2 separate regions of the Homo sapiens genome follow, and region 1 is linked to region 2. The links come from fine-mapping of genetic effects on plasma protein levels. Region 2 holds a variant in brackets. A gene starts in the other region. All regions are shown on their reverse strands.

Region 1 (4,378 bases), not on the chromosome of region 2:
CATACAATATTTGGTTTTCCAATCCTGAGTTACCTCACTTAGAATAATGGCCTCCAGTCCATCCAAGTTGCTACAAAAGACATTATTTCGTTCCTTTTTATGGCTGACTAGTATTCCACAGTGTATATATACCACATTTTCTTTATCCACTCATTGGTTGATGGGCATTTAGGTTGGTTCCATATCTTTGCAATTGCAAATTGTGCTGCTATAAACATGTGTGTGCATGTGTGTTTTTCATATTATGACTTATTTTCCTTTGGGTAGGTACTCAGTAGTGAGACTGCTGGATCAAATGGTAGTTTACTTTCAGCTTTTTAAGAAATCTCCAGCTGGGCACAGTGGCTCACACCTGTAACCCCAGCACTTTGGGAGGCTGAGGCGGGTGGATCACGAGGTCAAGAGATTGAGACCATCCTGGCCAACATGATGAAACCTCATCTCTACTAAAAATACAAAAATTAGCTGGGCATGGTGGTGTGCACCTGTAGTCCCAGCTACTTGAGAGGCTGAGGCAGAAGAATCACTTGAACCCGGGAGGCAGAGGTTGCAGTGAGCCGAGATCATACCACTGCACTCCAGCCTGAGCAAGAGAGATACTCCATCTCAAAACAAAACAAAACAAACAAACAAACAAACAAAAAAAAGGTAAAAAAAAAAAAAACAAAGAAACAAAATAATTCCGTAGCAAAGTCACTGAAACATGAAGTAGCATGATTAAAAATGGAAGAAAACCCAGAAGGTGCATAACGGGATAAAAACAACAGTAAATATTGATTTGTGTATCATAAAGGTTAAGAGGTATTTGTGAAAATGGTTAGCTCTGGAGTATTTTCACACATAAAGAAATGACTGCATTTGTTACTGGGCTTATAACATTCAACATGAGGCTGTGGTAGCGGGCCTCCAAGATGGCACCTGATGACCCCACCTTATGTCAGCTCCACCTCCCACATCTTACCAGACTGGCTCTGTGTAACCAATGGCAGAAGAGATGATATGTTTCAAGATAAGGTTATAAAAAGACACTGCTGCTCCCACCTCAGTCATTCCCTGGTCCACTGTCTCAATTTCTCTATTCACTCATTCTGCAGGAACAAAGAGCTGGCAGGAAAAGCCCAGCCTTCTGATAAGGTTCTGAGGATTTTGTCCAAAGGCCTAAGAGGAGCTGAGGACTCTTGCTAACAGCCACATGAGCTTGAAATTGAATCCTTTAAACTTGGGAAACCTTCAGAAGATTGCAGCCATATGCAACAGCTTGTCTGCGTCCTCATGAGACACTCTGAGCTGGAACCACCCAGATAAGCTGCTCCCTCCTGGTCCACAGAAACTGTTTAAGATAAGAAAAATTCGTATTTTTAAGATGCTAAGTTTGAGGGTTATATTTTACATGGCAATAGATATCTAATACAGAGTTGAGGGAAGTTCCATGTGCTATTTTGCAAATTTGATGAAAAAAACACATCTCTACATATACATGTAATTTGTAGTGTTTATTCTAAGAATTAGCAGATACTTGCCACCTTCACTTTTCAAGCCACTTTTCAAAAACTTTGTTTTACTACTTAATAGATGATTCTGATCTCCCTTTTAACTGACCCAAAATTCTTCACAATCTGTGCGCTTCTTACTTATCTCATATTCTACTCTCCCCCATCCTTTTTTTTTTCCTTTACTCCATCCATGCTGACGTCTTTTATGTTTCTGGAACGTGCCAAGCAAACTTCCATCTCAAGGCCTTTGTGTTGACAGTTCTTTCTGTCTTAGCTTCTCTTTCCCTGGATATCTGAATATCCATGTGGCTCACTTTCTTCTCCTTCAAATCTTTGCTCAAAACTCTCCTCATCAGTGAGGACAGTATTGAACAGCTTATTTAAAATAGCAGTACCACCCCTCACACTGATGATGCTCCTTATCTGGATTTATTGTCCTTTAACACATGTACAAGTTGAGCATCTCTAATCCAAACACCCAAAATACTCCAAAATCTAAAACTTATTGAGTACTGACATCATGCCACACCTAGAAAATTTCACACCTGACTTCATGTGGTGGGTCATAGTCAAAATGCATTCAAAGCCTTGTTTTATGCATAAAATTACCTAAAATAGTCAGTAAGATTACCTTCAGTCAGTAGCATAAGTGAAACACAAATGAATTTTGTGTTTAGACTTGGGTCTCATCCCCAAGAGATCTCATTATGTATATGCAAATATTCCAAAATCTGGGGGGAAAAAATCTGAAATCTGAAACACTTCCAGACCCAGGCATTGTGGATAAGGGATCCTCAACCTGTAGTAATTTTATTGCGTCTCTCCCCCTCACTGAAATACCAGCTTCAACAGGGTGGGGCTTTTCATCTCTTCAGTCACTTATGCACTTCCATCCATGATGTGTCCTGATGACCTAGAACAATGCCTGACACTTAGGAAGTACTCAATAAAATATTTGTTGATGTAAATCAATTGAAATATCAGTCCCATAGGGATGGGGATTTTCATCCCTTTAGTCACTTATCCACTTACTTGATATATCCTCATTACCTAGAAGAATGCCTGACACTTAGCAGGTACTCAATAAATACTTGATGTGAGCTCCTGAAATGAGTTTAGTTCAAGGGGCTTTTTTACAATACCAATTATCCTAAAGTAAAGATGACTGCCTATATTTAAATTTCCTGACTCCGTAGGTTGTCAATAAACAGGGACTATGATCTGAAAGCAAAGTTCAGTTTAAAAAGAAAAGTATGTGCTTGTATGAGTCACAAAAAAGGGCTAAGTACAAAAGAACTGCTGAGGTAAACATGAACATCGTTCTGTGAACTTATGATTTAAATAAAATCTTTATCACCACACTTGCCAAGAGCAATATATCTTATCATGAACGTACATAAAAAACTCTTGTGTCTTTCCTCTTAATACTCGGAACATTATTTTTATTTTTATTACGAAGTTTGCATTGGAGAATATTGTAACTCACTGCACCTAGGTAAAAACTAAAGACATAAATCTGATGTTAGTTCTAAAAATCTACAAGGGTAATGATATGAATTTCACAGACATGGAAGCCTTGTTCAGAATAGATGATAATAGAAAGGCTCGGTAGAGCCAGGTTCATGAGTGTGTGACCTGTGCAGAAGTGGGTGCTTAGAAGGCCCATGGCTTGGGTTAATGCTCTGCTGTTGCCGTCTTGAAATTCTTCACAATTTATGAACAAGGGAACTTCATTTTCAGTTTACACGGAACCCTGCAAATTATGTACTTGGCTCTATCTTCCTTTGCAAACGGAGAAACAGGCTTCAAGAGTTTTGAAACTGCCATAATAGATCCAAAAACTGTGTATGCTTTTCACATCTGTACAATTTTGTTACGTATTTATAAACATCTGCTGAATGGATGACTCTATGTATTGGCCCACATCACTTCAGAACTAGGTCTTGAACTTAGGGATTGTGGCAAGAAGGAAAAAGGCAGCTTCCGGTGGCTCACAGGGCAGGCCAGGTGGCTCACACCTGTGAGCATTTTGGGAGGCCAAGGCGGGTGGATCACTAGAGTCCAGGAGTTCGAGACCGGCCTGGGCAATATGGCAAGATCCTATCTCTACTAAAAATACAAAAATAGCCTGGGGTGGTGGCACGCGCCTGTAGTCCCAGGTACTCCGGAGGCTGAGGCAGGAGGCACTTGAACCTGAAGGTCGAGGCTGCAGTGAGACCTGATCTCAACACACACAAAAGAATGACTCTCAGGCTTCTTTTTTTCTAATGGATGGAAGTGAAACCTCGAAAGCACATGGTCAAGTGCCTGACTCTTCCAAAACAAAAACAAAAACAAAAAAACTAGCCTCAGCAAGGAGGTCCGTAGCCTCCAGCTGACCGGATTTTCAGTCACAGAACACCGGGGACCTAAAAAAGGGTCAATCTCAGCATCGTGCACTCAACCCAGCTCCTTCCGCCCCTCGAGCCCAGGCTGGGAGGAGCCGAGGAACCGAAAGAGAAAACAGGCCGCGCGGGCGGCAGAGGAGCCGGGCGCCGCAATGGACGTGCGGGCGCTGCCGTGGCTGCCGTGGCTGCTGTGGCTGCTGTGCCGGGGCGGCGGCGATGCGGACTCCCGCGCCCCCTTCACCCCGACCTGGCCGCGGAGCCGCGAGCGTGAAGCCGCCGCCTTCCGGGTACCGAGCGCGCGCCTCCCCGGGATCTGTCCCTGCTCCCTCACTTCCTGTCCCGGGTCTGGGCTGCGGAAGAGGGCCCCCGAGAGCTGACCCTGCTCGTGGGCACCCGTGGCTCTGCGATGCGTCTGGGGCCCTGAGCTGCGGGTGCAAAAGCCAGCTTCTCTCTCCCCTCTCCTTGTGCCATGGTGTCACTCCCCCATGCCTTTGCTAA
Region 2 (4,401 bases):
CTATGGGGCTCCTGGGCAGCCCAGTCCTGGCATGGCGTCCCAGTAACAGTGGTCGCCCTCTTGCCTCGGTATCCTTTCCCATTCCCAAACATACAGTCTGTACAGGGAAAAAATGGATGATTATGAAGAGCCACAGAGACCCAGGATGATATGGAATCAATACAGTCATGTCAGGTTTCTCTAGGATGACAGAATCAGGGGCCACATTCCTCAGAAACTGCAATGCTGAAGACTGCAATGAACGCTGCCTACCTTAAGAAATTACTGGAGATGCTTACTGGCTTGGAAAGAATCACACATATGGCAGCATGATAGAATACGAATTTGGACTGGGATACTGAGATAACCCATTTTAGAACAAGGTGAGTGGTTAAGTTGAGCACCTTGGAGGGTTTGCACCTGTCCTAAAGGCACAGCCCACTCACGTTGTGCCAAAAGTCACACCTCTGCCTCCTTGAGAGAGTGCACTGAGGCTTCCTTCCACATGGCAGACCCTCTAAAAACACTTGATTTCTCGTGTAGCATGGAAGGTTTCTGCATCAGTGAGATTTTCCATGGCTTTTCATCCCAGCGTCCAAGTGTGTAGATGTCCAGCCACAGATTTCTTACCTTCTTCGGAAGGAGTCTCTACATCTGGAAGCAGGACAACAGGCGGAGGTGCTACAACACTCGCTTCTGTTCCTGAGCATTTTTTCAGGTTGCAGTACTCCCACCTGACGCTGGGGTCTGTGGTAAAACACCAGGGGCCTTTATCGGCATCTGGATTCCTGCAGTAGTTCATTGTCAGGCCACTGGAAATTCCAAAACAATACAGGTCACAAGAGGTGGGAGAATATTCAGGGGCACCCAGCACCCTCTACATTTTGTTCTAACAAAGTGTTAACAAGTGGCTTTGAAATATTCCCATTATAGGTACAATAATGTTGTAACAAACAAAAATGGTCCTCAACTTCTAAACAACTGTGTACATTTCAAAGACAGATTTTAATTTTTCTTTAAAAAATCAAAAGTAGTATATGCTCCATATAAAAACTCAGATCATACATAAACATGTAAATAAAAGGATCAGAATATCCCCCTCCCACCTTCTGCCAAATACATTTCTCAGGAATAACAGGTACAGATTTTAAAGTGCATATTTTATATTTTTATGCACATAAAAGTATATCTCTAACTGTCTAGCTCTCTGTATTTCTCTCTATAGGACTGTATTGTGAAATGTGCATTGGAACTAAAATACATTTCTCCAAGGAGAAAATGACATCCAAGATGGTATCATTCCCAGGCCAGTCACCTTACTCTAAGTACTCACAGTGTAACTAAAGGGATCTACTTTTACTATGAAAAACAACCACGAAAAATAGTGTTACTGTCAATACCGTATCAGGTGTGTCAAGTGGGTTTGTTTCTGCAAGACGTATCAAAGCCACCCTGGGAAACTAGCTCCCAGGCAGGATGCCATTTCTCTAGGATGGGTTCCTGGGCAGGACATCCTCTCCTGCTCTCAATCCATCCTCTGCTGGCCACTGCCACTCCAGGTCTGAGGGAATGGGGGATGAGTTGGAAGAACAGTGGGACTCAAGATATAAAGGGAGACTATGGGATCTGAAGAGGTCGGGCAGCTACGGAGGAGTCCGAAAACAACGGAGTAATAGTCAAAGCAGGCGAGGACCCCGGGCTGGGGGGGATCTTGGAGAATGTGCTCCCCCTCATGCCTCCCAAGAATGTTGCTCCAACCTCTCAGAATCCTCACATTCATGACCTGTGGCTGTCTGAGAAAACGGGAAATGTATTATGTACCATGGGAATGCAACATTGTCTCTCTAGCGACTCTACACATGTGATCTAATCTCAAGCCCAGACACCCCATTTGAGGAAGTTCATAGTCTAAGCAACTGGATGTGTTAAAAGGCTGAGCATTTGAAACAGATTTCCACTCTCTTCAGTTGAGGTATACTTTTACATAGTGTGAAATGCACAGATCTTAAATGTTGTTTGGTGAGTTTTGATGATCACCTATACTTGTGTAAACCACACTCCCATATGATACAGAACACTTCCATTACTCTAGAAACACCCTGTGTCACTGCTCATTCAATTCCTGCTACCCTCTTCCCACTGCCAGAGGGAAATACTATTGGTTTCCTTCACTAAAGATTAGTTTTACCTCTCCTCAAACCTGATATAAATGGGCTCATACAGAATGTACACTTATGTATCTGCCTCCTTTCCTTAATATATTTTTGAGTTCCATCCATCCTATTTGAGAGGATCAGTCACTTCTTCATTTTAATTGCTTAATAATATTCCATTATATGAATAGATCACAAATTATCGATTCATTTTCTCATTGATTGACCTTGTAGTTGTTTACAGTTTGGGGTTATAATAACTAGAGCTGCTGTGAATATTCTTGTAGATCTCTTTGTGGACTTCTGTTTTCATTTCCATGGGGTAAATATTCAGGAATAGAATTGCAGTTTTTTGGGGTAGACTCATAGTTATTTAACTTTATGGAAAACCAGCATACTGTACTTTAACCAGCGTATGCGAGAGCTGCACATCCT[C/T]GCTCCACATCAGTGACAGCACTTATTGTTGTGTCTTCTTAATGATACCCATGCCCATTAAGTGTTGGTGACATCTTGTGATGGTTATAATTCTTATATCTTTGATGGCTAAAATGTTGAGCATTTTTTCAGGTGCTTATTGTCCATCTGTCCATCGTTCCCTGAGAAATTTCCTATTCAATTCTGTTGCCCATTTTAATTAGGTTGTTTGTCCTCTGATTAGTGAGTGGGAGAAACGTTTATACTCTAGATACAAACCATTTGTCAGATATATGGATGGAGAGAATTTTTATTCCAGTCTGTTACTTACCTACTGATTTCTTAACAATGACTTTTGATGAACATAATTTTCATTTTATGAAAGCCCAAATTATAATTTATTTTCTTTTAAAGCTAGTGTTTTCTGGGTCCTGCCTGAAAAAAATTTTGCCTTCCTCAAGTTTGTGAAAATATTATATATTTTCCTGGAATTGTTTTATTTCAGCTTAAGTTTTAGCTCTTACATTTAGATCTAGGAGCTTTTGCACATTAATTTGGGATGGAAAGTAGAAGTCAAAATTTGTTTTTATTTTTGTTTTCTAGATGGATATCCGATTGTTTCACAATGATTTTGGAAAAGATGTTTTTCCCTGTTGAATTTCCTTGTCACCTACCTAGAAACTAAATTGATCATGTATATGTGGATCTGTTTCTGGACCATCCATTTCTATATCTGTATACTTTTTTTTCCCAATACCACATATCTTGTTTACTGTACCTTTATAGGTCTTTACCTTTGGGTAAGTAAGTCCTCCAACTTTTTTCTTCTCTTTAAATATTGTCCTTGTGATTCTAGCATATACATTTTTTCACATTTTTTAAAAAAAACGACTGCTGAGATTCTGGTTGGGTATGGGCTGAATCCAAAGATCAATTTGGTGAGAAGTGATATTGACTCTTAATATATAAGCGTGATATATCTTTATTTAGATCTTTTGATTCCTTCCTTAACAATGTTTTTTAGTATGCAGTACATAATTCTTGTGCATATTGTGTTAAATGTATCACTAAATATCTTGTGGTTTTGATACTATTGTCAGTGGTATTGCTCTGACATTTTTATTTTCCAGTTGATCATTGGCAGTGTATAAAAATACAACTACTTTTATTATATTGATCATGTATATACTTATGTGTTCTCCAATCTTGCAAAATTTAATTATTAATCTTTAGGACTTTCTGCATCCGTTAATTAAGCTTTCTGTGAATACAGGCAGTTTTAATTCTTCCTCTCCAAACTTTAGGCCCTTTCTTTCTTTCCTTCCTTTTTTTCCTCTCTTTTTGTTTTGTTTTCAGGTCTTATGGCAATGGTTGTGACCAATGTAGTAAAATGCTGATTAGAAGTACTGAGAGCAAACATATTTTTCTTATTCCCAATCTTAGAGAGAAAACATTAATCTTTCACCATTAAGTTGATGTTATCTGGAGGTCTTTTGTAGATGCCTTTGATCAAGTTAAAGAAGTTCCAGTCTATTCATAGTTTGCTAAGACATTTTATCATGGATAAGTGTTAAATTTTGTCACATTTTCTTCTGCATCTATTGACATAATCATATGATTTATCACTTTTATTCTGTTAACATGTTGGATTACATGGATTGTTTTGTAAATGTTAAGCCAGCCTTGCATTCTTGAAGAGAAGCTTCACTTGTTTGGGATATTCATCATGTTAATGATTAAAATTTTGTTACATCTTTTTATATTTATGTTCACAATACATAATGTGCTATAGTTTCTCACAATATCCTTGTCTACTTTTTTACAACTAGGGTTTTTTTTTTTTCTCACAAATTGA

Which allele goes with the higher level. Alleles are on the strand shown, and positions count from the first base shown. The strength of an association depends on the size of the effect and on how common the allele is.
As copies of T replace C in region 2, the plasma level of the protein whose gene starts at base 4,014 in region 1 goes up (weak association).

The links. PIP is the posterior inclusion probability: the model's chance that the variant is causal. Protein levels are from antibody-based Olink assays in UK Biobank. Linkage for the fine-mapping came from a reference panel and not from the study's own genotypes, which makes the PIPs less certain.
Region 1: it holds the start of CTSO, and the variant in region 2 is fine-mapped to the plasma level of the CTSO protein (UK Biobank, PIP above 0.99).

The regions. Positions count from the first base shown.
Region 1 is chr4:155,953,502-155,957,879 of GRCh38, reverse strand. CTSO (cathepsin O) reads left to right here and starts at 4,014. Exons shown (of 8, transcript NM_001334.3): 1 at 4,014-4,167. The coding sequence starts at 4,033. RefSeq lists an enhancer at 2,609-2,903.
Region 2 is chr6:160,727,441-160,731,841 of GRCh38, reverse strand. PLG (plasminogen) reads right to left here. Exons shown (of 19, transcript NM_000301.5): 11 at 610-791; 12 at 1-97. Among named protein-coding and RNA genes, the nearest start is that of PLG, 27 kb to the right of the region's middle. The variant C/T (reference allele first, on the strand shown) is at 2,568.